Regions from separate parts of the Homo sapiens genome. Here regions 2, 3 and 4 are each reported to be linked to region 1. The links are microRNA targets in miRTarBase. Many come from high-throughput screens and were not tested one by one. Region 1 holds a microRNA gene; each other region holds the end of a gene's coding sequence. Distances are from middle to middle.

Region 1 (3,163 bases):
TTATTTTCTTATTCTCTCTCCCCTCCCTTCCAAATGTCTGGAGATCTACAATGTTTCAGGACAGTGTTTCCAGCTTTGGTTCCTTTGAACACCAGCTTCTCCATTTCTCTATCCAATCAGATGCAGATTTTGAAAAATGGAATTCCCTTTTAATTTTGAAAAATTGAATTCCCTTTTTTTTTTCCTCTCTTTTGAGACAGGGTCCCACTCCAATGTCCAGGCTGGAGTGCAGTGGTGCCATCACAGCTCACTGTAGCCTCGACCTCCTCCTGGGCTCAAGTGATCCTCCCACCTCAGCCTCCCGAGTAGCTGGGACTACAGATGCATGCCACATGCCTGGCTAATTTTTGCATTTTTTTGTAGAGACGGGGTTTCCCTATGTTACCCAGACTGGTCTCGAACTCCTGGGCTCAAGCGATTGGCCTGTGTCAACCTCCCAAAATGCTAGGATGATGGGAGTGAGCCACTGCGCCCAGGCTTCCCTTCCTTTTCTTATATATAAATTTGGGCTGACCGTAAAACAATGAGATTTGATCATCTGGTTGTAAAGCCCCTACAAATATACAATAGGAGATGTAGGTCAGTACAAACTGGGCAGCAGGCAGTTCCTAAAGCCACCTTGTTGACCATGCCTGGTGGAACCCGTGAGGCTTGCCAGGGAGGGGCTGCAGAGGTCTTCCATTACCGTGGGCTGAATGACCACACAGTGAGATCCCCACTTCCTTCAGATCAGTGTTGCTCAAGTTTTAGCCCCAAGAGAGCTTAAGAGATTCCTGGGCTGCGTCCCCAGAGATCCTGACTCAGTGGTTCTGGGCGGGGGCCTGGGATTCTGCATTTCTAGCAAGTTCCCCCAGGTGATGCTGATGCCGCTGGTCTGACGACCACAGTTTCAGGTCTTGGGCCACTGGGCATCCAAATCACTTGCAGGTGCTTGTGAAAAGGCAGATTCCTGGGCACTACCCCCGAGACATTCTGATTCTCAGGTTCAGGGTGGCTCCTGGGAATCTGCCATATCAACCAGCCCTGGAAGGAACCTCTGAAGACCACCCTTTGGGAAGCACTGCCTAGACCATTAGCACCTGTAATGCTGAGGTGAGGAATGCGGAGGTGAAGGGATTTGCTTCAAGGTCACTCTGCAAGTCAGGGACAACTCCCTGGTGCCTGGGCCCTAAATCTTGGAGCACCCTGGGCTCCTCTTTCCTTCCCAGTCCACATTCAGCATGTCAGCAAATCCTGTTGGCTCTTCTTTCAAAACACATTTAGGTTTTCTTGAAGACTCTAGCAAACAGACTTGGGTGTGGGAGAGTCAATGCAACTAGACTGGTAAAATGTGGGTCATTGTTGAAACTGTGAGTTCATTTTATTACTCACAATTTTTTATTTATATTTGAATTCTTCCATAACAAAAAGTTTTAAGTGTTTGATCTAACAAATTCACTTCTGGGAATTTATCTTAAACAACTTTTTTTTTTTGCTTCCCGTCCAACAACTTTATTAATGAACATTTTAAATAAAGAAAAACTCTTACAAATAAAAATATTTTTTCAAATAACAATAGTGAAAAATTGGGGGCACATGAAGTCTCCTTTTTTTTGAGATGGAGTCTCGCTCTGTTGCCCAGGCTGGAATGCAGTGGCACCATCTCGGCTCACTGCAACCTCCACCTCCCAGGTTCAAGCCATTCTCCTGCCTCAGCCTCCCAAGCAGCTGGGAATACAGGCATGTGCCACCACGCCTGGCTATTATTATTATTTTTTTGTATTTTTAGTAGAGATAATTCACCATGTTGGCCAGGCTGGTCTTGAACTCCTCACCTCAAGTGATCTGCCCACCTCGGCCTCGCAAAGTGCTGGGATTACAGGCATGAGCCACCACACTTGGCCTAAATTCTCATAATAGGAAAACAATAAACTATGGAACACTCCTCGACAGAATTTTTTATAATTAAGAGCATTTATCCAGGCTACATACCAACAGGGAAAACATGATACACTATTAAGTAAAACACTAGGACATTAAATTGTATATATTACATGATTAAAACTATGTAAATATTTGTATCTTTGAAAAAGACTGAAAAATAATTACATATGTTCAGAATCTAATCATTTCCCACCTCCTTCAATGCAATGGCCTTTGTCTCTTGGGAGAGGAGGGCACTGGAGTCCTAGTCTAGGGGAGCCCAGCACCCCAGTCTCTCGCCTGCAACCCTGTTAACAGCCCTGCACTGGTCTCTCTGCTTTCACCCTTTCTCTCTCCAACCTCCTCAGCACTGGCCAGCTAGAGAGGTCCTTCAGAATGTGAATCAGCTCATGCCCCTCTTCTGCTCAGAACCCTAGGAGGCTTCCTGTATCTCTCCAACTAAAAGCTTCCTGCCATGGCCGTCCAGGCTGCAGAATGTCAGCTCGCCTGCTCTGACCTGCTGCTCGGTTCCCTGCCTATGCCTGCCTCTCCAGCCATGCTGGCCTCCTGGCTGCTCTTCAGGAACACACTCCAGTCTCGGGGCCTTTGCACGTGCTGTTTTCTCTGCCAGGAATGTGCTCCCTCCCTCCTTCATGACAGCTCTTCAGAGAGGTCTTACCTGGGCTCATCTAAAATAGATCCACTCCCTCTTTTTGCTCCCAAACCCTTTATATTTCTTTATAGCACTTATTAACATGTCCCACAGTACATTTATTACATCTTCTACTTTCTAGAATGCAAATTCCTTGAGAACAAAGACTTTACGCTTGATTCTCTCCTGTATCCCCAGTACCTAGCATAGAGCCTGACACATAGTAGGTGATGAACAAACACCTGCTGAATGCAAGACTGTTGTACTGAGCAACCATCCAACGGGGGCTGTAAGCGGCATGTAGGCTTTGTTTCTTGGGTAACCTCCCCTCCTTAATCCTTCTGGCATAGGCAGACTCACAGCAGGTACCCAGTAGAAGGTAAGGTGGCTGATCATTTTTCCATAGGAGGTCTCCATGGCACACAGGGTAGAAAGTGCATTCTGTGAATTAGAGGCAGCAGAGCATGGCAGCTAATGGAAACTGGCTCTGGGAGGTCAAATTCTGGCTTAACACCACCAGCTGGGCAGCCTTGGGAAAATTATGACAATTCTCAGGGCATTAATTTTTCCTTGTGCAGAAAGAGAAGGATAATGACAGCTCCTATTTCC
Region 2 (3,163 bases), not on the chromosome of region 1:
CTCACTTGTGACTACTCTTTTTAGGGATCAGAGTTCATCTTTCTCCCTTCCCTCCTATTGCGCAGGTGCTGAAACTGGTGTCTGACTTGAGGAACCACCCTGTAGCCACTCTGATGGCCACTGGGCACCCCATGGTGATCAGCTCTGATGACCCAGCTATGTTTGGTGCCAAAGGCTTGTCCTATGATTTCTATGAGGTCTTCATGGGCATTGGGGGGATGAAGGCTGACCTGAGGACCCTCAAACAGCTGGCCATGAACTCTATCAAGTGAGTGTCCTGTGTCCTCCCAGGTCCCCCGCCTCCTTCCAGCCCGCAGCTTGTGTTTGCCTCTCTGGAGGCTTGAGGCAGATGCCTCGATGGTTCCTGTGGGTTCCTTCTCATCATGGCTGTTTAGTCCTTGCTGCTGGCCTGGGGAGAGTGCTCTGCAAGGCTCTAATGTCCTCTCAGGCTCCCTGCCCCGTTCCCCAACCCCTGCCCTGAGGCTGACCTGGGCTCCTCCTCTTCCTGCAGGTACAGTACCCTGTTGGAGAGTGAGAAAAATACTTTCATGGAAATCTGGAAGAAGAGATGGGATAAGTTCATAGCAGATGTGGCTACAAAGTGAGGAGAAGCTAGCCAGCCCTCTACAAGCTGTCTTCTTGCACACGCTGTCACTTCCTCTCACTCGTTCTTGAATCAGCTCCATGTGCCCATGAAATCAATGGCCTCTGTATGGAGCGACCCTGTGAGAAGCACTTGGCTGGCTGAGCAAATTCATCCTCTGGAAATATTCTCTCTCAGCCACAGTGACATTGACCCTCTTGGTTTTCTCCTGTCTCTGGCCATTTCTTCCAGTTTCCCTATTTCAGAGTCTTCTCCTCTCTCTGATCTCTGTGCTGTTTCCTCAGGACTCAGTCCTGGGCTCTCTTCTATTCTGGTCTCTTTATTTTTTTATTTTTGTATTTTTTCGAGATGGAGTTTTGCTCTTGTTGCCCAGGCTGGAGTACAATGGTGCGATCTCAGCTCAGTGCAACCTCCGCCACCCGGGTTCAGGCAATTCTCTTGCATCAGCCTCGCGAGTAGTTGGAATTATAGGCATGTGCCACCACACCCAGCTGATTTTTGCATTTTTAGTAGAGACAGGTTTTCACCATGTTGGCGAGGCTGGTATCCAACTCTTGACCTCAGGTGATCCACTCGCCCCTTGGCTCCCAAAGTGCTGGAATTACAGGCATTAGCCACCATGCCTGGCCTATTCTGGTCTCTTTAACTCTCTCCTCTTTATTTCTCTTCTCTCTCTGTACACTTTTCCTGGGTGGTCTCATCCATTCCTTTGCTTTTTCATACCATTTATTTGTTAATGATTCCCACATTTATTTATGCACTTGGAGAGCTCACAGGAATCTCAGAAACTGATGAGGTACAATTCTGAACCCTCAGTCTCTTCCCTTTAAACCTTTCTTTTTCTCTACTTTAATTTTTCTAAAGAGTGTCTTGCTATGTTGCCCAGGCTGGTCTCCAACTCAAGTGATCCTCCTGCCGCAGTCTCCCGAAGTGCTGGGATTACTGACATGAGCCACCACACTCAGCCCTTTAAACCTTTCCCTGGCCTTTCCCATAGCTGGTGAAGGACACCTCCATCCATTCCACGCAGTTGCTCAAAGCAGAAATTTTCAGTGCAAGTCTTGATGCTGCGCCGTCCCCCACTCCCTACATCAGAACGCATCCCTCATCTGGACTCCAGCGGTGGCTTCTTGATGCTGCGCGGTCCCCCACTCCCTACATCAGAATGCATCCCGCATCCAGACTCCAGCGGTGGTGCTCTACCTGCACGCTGTTGCCAAGTCCAAGCTACCATACTCCTGCCTGAGCTATGACAACAGCCTCCTCACTGATCTCCCCTTTCTTCCCTTTGCCTCCTCCAGCTCATTTTTCACAGTGTAGAATGACATTTTGTTTGTTTGTTTTGTTTTGTTTGAGATGGAGTCTCGCTCTGTTGCCCAGGGTGGAGTGCAGCGGTGCGATCTCGGCTCACTGCAACCTCCACCTCCCGGGTTCAAGCGGATTCTCGTGCCTCAGCCTCCTGAGTAGCTGGGATTACAGGCATGCACCACCATGCCCGGATAATTTTTGTATTTTTAGTAGAGATGGGGTTTCACTATGTTGGCCAGGCTGGTCTCGAACACCTGACCTCGTGGTCCACCCGCCTCGGCCTCCCAAAGCACTGGGATTACAGGCGTGAGCCACCCGGCCTGGCCTAGAATGACTTTTAAAAGATCAAATTAAATCAGGTCACTCCTTTGCTTACAACGCAGTGCGTTTAGAGGTACACCCCATGTCTCCACAGGGCATACAGCATCCGATTTAATCTGGATCCATTCCGGCGCCTTCCTCTCCCAGTCACCCAGAGGGCCCCAACCCCGGCGGCCCTTTCTTCCTCAAATGTCCTCGGCTCTATACCGTGCCTGGGTCTTTTCTCTTTCTCTCTGCCTGGAAGATTCCTTCTTTCCCCTTTTGTCTTGCCCACTCCTGTTTACCCTTCAAGTTTCAAGTTCATGTCACTGTCTCAGAGAGGTTTTCCTGTGCTCGCCCTGTTTCTCTCAGGAAGCCTTGCTCTTTTCCATCATGCCTCTAATCACAGCTTATAATCGGATATTTATTTCTGTGTCTACAGTCTTGCCCTGCCAGACTGTATGCCCCATGTGGGCAGGCGCTCATGATTGTTTCTGATTGTTTCACGCATGCTGCTAACCCAGAGCCTGGGCCCAAAGCTAGTTAGTACTCAATAAACAATGCATTGAATGAGTGGCTGTCACTGTGTCTGTTCAGCCAGCTGCCAAGGCAGAGGGGAGTAGAGCAGAGCCGCCCCAAATAAAAGACCTCATGTGATCAGAGTCCAGCTCCTCACCTGGCCTTGGAAGAAGGATGCAAGAAGCCACCTCTGTCCTCACCCAACTCAAGGATGGCAGGGAATCAAAGAATTCCTCAAAAGCCCCAGGCGAATGTCCTCTCATCCATCTTCCATGACCTGTACCTGAGCTCTCAGACAGCAGCAAGCCCTCTCTCCATTCCTAGTTTATCACCATTTGGTTCCTGGAACTGGGAAAAAACAGCAACCATAAGCTGTGCCTGGATGGAAGAAGACAACCTCTAGGGTCCTGTCTAACTCTGCAGGTGATTCAG
Region 3 (3,163 bases), not on the chromosome of region 1:
AAGTGGCAAATACTTGAAGATCATTGATTTAATTTAAAATTCTGAGTGCTGAGTTCAGTTTCCTACTGAATATAACCAGTGCCCTGGGCTCTGCATGGCAGTTGACTTGCCAATATCTCAATTAAAGTGACTAGGCACAGTGGCTCACACTTGTAATCCCAGCACTTTAGGAGGCCGAGGCCAGGAGCTTGAGACCAGCTGGAGAACATAGTGAGATCCTGTCTCTACAAAAAAATTTAAAAATACATACTTTTTAGACAGGTGTGGTAGATCACACCTGGTGCCTGGTGGCTCCCAGCATTTTGGGAGGCTGAGGACAGGAGGATCATCTGAGCCCAGGAGTTCAAGACCAGCCTAGGCAACAGAGCAAGACTCCATCTCTAAAAAACTAAAAACATTAGCCAGGTGTAGTGGCACACACCTATAGTTGCAGCTACATGGGAGGCCAGGGCAAGAGGATCGCCTGAGCCTAGGAGTTTGAGGCTGCAGTGAGCTACAGACTGCACCACTGCACTCCAGCCAGTAGATTAGAAATGTTTGTGAGAAGGTACCTTAATGGATGGGCAAGATGGACAGCAGCTATAGTAATTATTCATAGCAGCACTCTAGAAATAAAAACTAGATCTTATGTGGCAGGGCTGTGAAAATGCTTTTGTCAAAATTTAAAATTACAGATTAACACCTATGAGGCTGCAGGCACAGGGGTCACGCTGATGAAGGCATAAACCCTGCTCTCAAGTAGCTCACATCCAGTGAAAGGCTCAAACCACAAACAGGGAAGTACGTGAGATTAATTCGTTCAAGGATCAAACAAATGCCTCTTTTCACCCGATGCCACATTTCATTAAATAGTTTGTAGCAGTGATACTATAAAATGTGAGCTTTAAAGAACTCTGGTAACATTTTCAATCTCTTCCTTTCTCCGTACTCTTCTATTTCCCCCCAATTTCTCCAATCCACTCCTAATTTTCACTTGTATCTTTCTTCTACAAAAAACCTAAATATGCCAATTTTACTCTTCTTCCTTCCAGTTAGTAAAATCAATGAAATCACAATTTGAAACAAAATTATAAGTTGTCACACAATATGAAAAATATGAAATTCCTGATGATTCAAGTAGTTTTGATCTATAAAAGCAGCAATTTCATGATTCATCAGTCACTCCCAAGTCCTTGCTTTTATAATTTTTAAATGTGGATTTTATATATTTAGAAATTAAGTACAATGGCAGCAATATGACTATATATTGGCAAGTAACCTGGTGATTTCCAATTTATAAATCTGAGAGCTGTTTCCCATACCTGAAGCCTAACAGCCAATCTGATCCAAATCCAATCTTTCTGTCACTGTCAGCTACTTATTAAAATAATAAGATTTCATTTCTACTTGGAAACAAAATCTTTAACCTGAGTTTCCAGTATTCAAAATATTGCTATTTAGATGTCGGATGCTTAACATTTCATGCCAAAGTCTCACGTGAATGATCTGACATAAGATAGAACATACTACTCAGCAACAAAAAAAATGCACAACTGACACACAGGGATCAATCTCAAAAATCTGCAGAGAGGAAGAAGGCAAAGTACATACTACAGTATTCTATTTACATGAATTCTACAATGGATAGATCTAATCGGTAACCAAAAGCAAATCTGTGGCTGCCTAGGGCTAGGGGTAGAGGAATTGATTGGGAAAGGGGGTATGAGAATTTTGGGGGCAATGAAAATATTTGTATCTTGATCGTGATAGTGGCTGCACAGAGGTATGAATCTGTCAAAACCCAATAAAATACACACGTAAAAAGGGTGCAATAAATCTAAGTAAATAGTACCTCAATTCAGTTGATTTACAAAACACAACATGACAGTATATTTTAAATTAAATGAAACATTAAGACCTTATTTTTTAAAAAAATTAATGTTATGGATAAAGCTAAAGTTCCCTCTGACCACCCTCCCAATCCTGATTTGCACCCCTAATCTCTCATCTATACCTCCTACTCGCTGTTAGAACTTTGGTATGGATTCCTCTGAACCTTTAAAAATAGATTTACGTACATTATATAGCCATAGAGAATGCATAGTATTGTTTTGTACATATATATAATTTGTATATAACTTTCTACAACTTGCTATTTTCACTGAGCATTATGTTTTTGAGACCAATCCAGGTTAATATGGATCTAGATTATTTCTTTTAACTCCAATACAATAATCTATCCTATGACTACATCATATTTTAATTAGGCCATTCCTCTTCAATATTTAGATTGTTTTTCCCTACTACAATTCACCAGTGTAGTGGTAAACAGTAGTCACCACTGGGGTGAGGACAGAACCGCAGGTGGTGTTCTAAGGGTTATTAGCCTTATTTATAAGATGTAGTTATAAGATGAGAATGTATTCATGTTTAATTTACATATGATAAATATTGACTTAAAGAATTTTGAGATACATATATTAGCAAAACGAACAAAACAACATCAGTTATAGGAAGCAAATCATCTAATAAAATATAAGGAAAACAAAGTTGTAGGGCCTAATAGTGTACTCATGGTTTGAAGCATATTTACTGGAAAATAATAAGCACTAAACAGATCATAAAAAAAATAATAAGCACTAAACAGATCATAAAAACATTCTCCTATGCAAAGGAATTCCAATTAATATATCTGTATATTGGTTATCATGGCGTAAGCATAATTAATATAGGTACAAGTACTTCATTTATATTTTTTGCTTTCTTCTTTTATGACTATGGTGTCTTTCCCCATCCCTGAAATAAAAGAGGTATAAAAAAATGGTTATAAATGATGGACATTTTAATATCAGAGCTTTAAAATAATTCAACAGTAATACACCACTTTCAACAGTAATATGCTACTTTAACATTCTATTTGAAAAGAATTTTCTGGTTATCATTTACATATACTCAAAGTTAATTTTAAAGCAGAATTTCAAAGCGTAATTAAAAAAAAATCACTTTGATTATTCCTATTTCAGTTTCGTCTCTTAGTTTTTTTATTTGTTTGTTTCTGTTTTTTTGAGATGGAGTTTCACTCTTGTTGCCCAGGCTGGAGCGCAAATGGCACGATCTTGGCTCACTGCAACCTTCGCCTCCCGGATTCAAGCGATTCCTGCCTCAGCCTCCCAAGCAGCTGGAT
Region 4 (3,163 bases), 22 Mb from region 1:
GACATAGAGAGAGGTGGAGGAGGTGGCAGAGGTGATGGAAGTGATGATGATGATGTTGGCAGAGGAGATGGATGGTCAGGTGGTGGTGGTGATGGTGGCAGTGGGAGCGGTGGTGGTGATGGAGGTGATGATGGTGATTATAATGGTGGTGGTAATAAAGGTGGAGGTAATGGGCATGCTGGTTAAGATGGTGTGGAGGTGGTAGAGCCAGTGGAAAAGGTAAGGTGGTGATAATTGAGGCAGTGGTGGTGTTAGTAGGAGTAGGGATAGTGATGGTGGAGGTGATGGCGGTGGAGGTGTTAGTGGTGGTTGTGGTGGGACAGGCAATGATGTTGGTAAAACTGTGGGGCAAGTGAATAAAAAATCTTATGTCTACACAAAAACTTTTACATCAATGTTCATAGCAGCATTATTCATAATAGTCAAAAAGTGGCCAGGCGTGGTGGCTCATGCCTGTAATCCTAGCACTTTGGGAGGCCAAGGCAGGTGGATCACCTGAGGTCAGGAGTTTGAGACCAGCCTGGACAACATGGTGAAACCTACTCTCTACTAAAAATACAAAAAAAAAAAAAAAAAAAAAAAAAAAAAAGCTGGGCGTGGTGACAGGCGCCTGTAATCCCAGCTACTTGGGAGGCTGAGGAAGGATAAGCACTTGAACCGGAAGGTAGAGGTTGTAGTGAGCCGAGATCATGCCACTGCACTCCAACCTGAGCGACAGAGCAAGATTCTGTCTCAAAAAAAAAAAAAAAAAAAAGTCAAAAAGCAGAAACAATGCAAATATTCATAACCTGATACATGGATAAACAAAATAGTATCTATGCATACAATAGAATATTATTTGGCCTTAAAAAAGAATGAAGTACTGATCTGTGATACAACATGGAGGAACCTTGAAAACATTATATTAAGTGAAAGAAGCCAGTTCCCGAAGACCACACATTGTATGATGCCATTTATATGAAATGTATAGGCAAATCTATAGAGATAACTAGTAAACCAGTAATTCCCTAGGGCTGGGAGAAGTGAGATGGGAGTGATTGCTAATAGGTATGGGGTATTTTGGCGGCAGTGATAAAGATGTTCTAAAATTAGATTGCTACCTCAGTGAATATACAAAAGAAATTAATTATATATTTAAATGGATGAATTTTATAGTGAGTCAGTAAAGCTGTTTAAAAAAACATGGAGTCAGTGGTGGTGTGGTAGTGAAGCCCTCAATTTTAGATGGTGGGGATTTTGTGGAAAGGAAGGAAGATTGGAGTTGACAGACACCAGATATACCTGAATCTATGTAGGGCCATGCCTGGGTACCATAGATTTTTTTCCTATAAATTTTTCTTTCTATGTGTTCTGGATAACTACATTTTCTCCCTTAGTCAACACTGAATTCACAAAGTAATTCTGGAGCAGGTTATGAGAATCAAGCCAAGTTGTCAGTTGCCACTGGAATCATGCTTAAATCTTCTATTTTCCCCCACACTGTCCTCGGTGCACAGAACTGGCTTTTAGTAGCTGGGATAGGGTAGCCAGGCTTTCTCTTCTCGTGTGAGTGCAAAATCAGACGAGTCCATGAAGAAATTAAAGCAGATCATCTGGAGTCTATAATTTTTAATAATTTTAAACTAGCTACAAAATGTCAATCACTTCACAAACTGACAGAGGAGACAGGAGGAATTTAATATTACATGCTATAATGATATTTATCTCACAGTTTATATTTCATTCATTTATATTATTTTTTTAAAAGGTTTCTTTATCAGCTACTAAACATCTCAGCAATTTGGTGTGCATAGCTCTAGATTAAGCAACAAAGAATTGTACTGATAACAAACCACAGGGGAAATGGTGGTTAGTAAGAGTCAGCCTTATAAAATTTACATCCACACTGTTTCACAGCAAGATTGCTCTCTCCAAAACATAGCCATCAAAAGCAGCAAACAAACCCTATATTACATCCATTTGACATAATTTCAGCCAAACATATATTTTGCTGGAAATGATTAAATGGTGAGTGTGTCAAATCCATCTTTTTTAAAATTCTTTTTTTTAAAAAAGGATGATTATGATTTAGAAGTCTCTATATATTGACAGGAAAAAAGTGACACTACTGCACTTTTGCTGGTATAACTTAATCTTGACAGTGTCTCAATACTGAGCATGCTTTGTTGTTGTTCTGTTGTTGTTGCTGTTGTTTTGTGTGTGTGTGTGTTGTCTCATCAGTATGCTACTGTCATGGAAAGTTTTTGTTTAAGTAGGAATCTAAAAATCTATTTAGTTCTCATGCATAAATGCATAAATCACATCACTTTTAGTGCAATGCCTGTTATGTAATTCCACATTGTCTAATCATGAAATCATAAAGACAGATAACAGCCATGAGGAACCAAAGACGGCACATTTTGAGAGATTCAGAGCCTGACACTCAAAGGACCGTGGCAGTAACTCTGTGGAATGTCACAGTTTTACAAGAACAATACTGTGGATTGAAAGAATCAACAGCACATTGAGCATTCCTAAATTGTTGTTATTCAGCAAATGCCACCGAGGAGAGAAAATGAAAAATGAAACTCAAGACCTCAAGGAGTTAGAGCCACCAAATGACCACTATGTACAACCTTTGGAAAGAAAGAGACCAAGAGAGAACAAAAGACACAAAGTATTGTTGGGAAGCTGACAGATGACACAGGACAACATTCACAATGGGGGTGGACTGATGTGTGTTATGTGTGCAGACCTACTAGATAATACCATGAGAAAAGCATGAAGGAGCTATCTTGCCCGACAGCATTTGGAGGAGAACACGGGTGGGCACACTTAACCACTTCCCAGCATCTTTGTTGCACGTTGGTTGGCCTCATCAATTCTGGTTTTGTTGGAATCAGCCTAGAAAAGGGGGAAAAGAAACAGAACTCAGGTTACCCCTTAAAAATCCATTCACCCTTCTGGGTCCGGGTCCAATGCTTCCTCTTGGGTGAAACCACTTAAAACCTCCTTGGTCAGCATGGGCCATCCTTTCTTTTGTCTTCCCAGAATGACGGCTATGGCTCTATTTGAATGTGACCGTAGAAGCTTAATTTTCATTTTTTTTTTTTAATGAACGAATATATTTTTTCAGAATCATTGCTTTTTTAATTTTCATTTTTAATAATTTTCCCTACCAGAG

Evidence for each region. The annotated mature microRNA hsa-miR-1825 reads UCCAGUGCCCUCCUCUCC and lies in region 1 at 2,147-2,164, opposite strand. An mRNA with a match to its seed (bases 2 to 7 or 8) in the 3' UTR can be bound and repressed. Matches are read on the target gene's strand: a 7mer-m8 pairs with bases 2 to 8, a 7mer-A1 pairs with bases 2 to 7 and ends in A, and an 8mer does both.
Region 2: miRTarBase lists ADA2 as a target of hsa-miR-1825. Seed matches in the 3' UTR shown: 7mer-m8 at 2,202-2,208.
Region 3: miRTarBase lists SNRNP48 as a target of hsa-miR-1825. Seed matches in the 3' UTR shown: 7mer-A1 at 749-755 and 7mer-m8 at 76-82.
Region 4: the mRNA of SNAP25 is a reported target of hsa-miR-1825. The part of its 3' UTR that is shown has no 7-base or 8-base seed match.

Annotation. Positions count from the first base shown.
Region 1 is chr20:32,236,831-32,239,993 of GRCh38, reverse strand. It overlaps MIR1825 (microRNA 1825), which reads right to left and starts at 2,199; the gene lies at 2,147-2,199. It overlaps POFUT1 (protein O-fucosyltransferase 1), which reads right to left. Exons shown (of 7, transcript NM_015352.2): 7 at 1,336-3,163.
Region 2 is chr22:17,178,925-17,182,087 of GRCh38, reverse strand. ADA2 (adenosine deaminase 2) reads left to right here. Exons shown (of 10, transcript NM_001282225.2): 9 at 66-268; 10 at 512-3,163. The coding sequence ends at 605. Among named protein-coding and RNA genes, the nearest start is that of HDHD5-AS1, 21 kb to the right of the region's middle.
Region 3 is chr6:7,608,437-7,611,599 of GRCh38, reverse strand. SNRNP48 (small nuclear ribonucleoprotein U11/U12 subunit 48) reads right to left here. Exons shown (of 9, transcript NM_152551.4): 9 at 1-2,775. The coding sequence ends at 2,727. Among named protein-coding and RNA genes, the nearest start is that of SNRNP48, 20 kb to the right of the region's middle.
Region 4 is chr20:10,305,849-10,309,011 of GRCh38, reverse strand. SNAP25 (synaptosome associated protein 25) reads right to left here. Exons shown (of 8, transcript NM_130811.4): 8 at 1,594-2,883. The coding sequence ends at 2,815. Among named protein-coding and RNA genes, the nearest start is that of SNAP25-AS1, 88 kb to the right of the region's middle.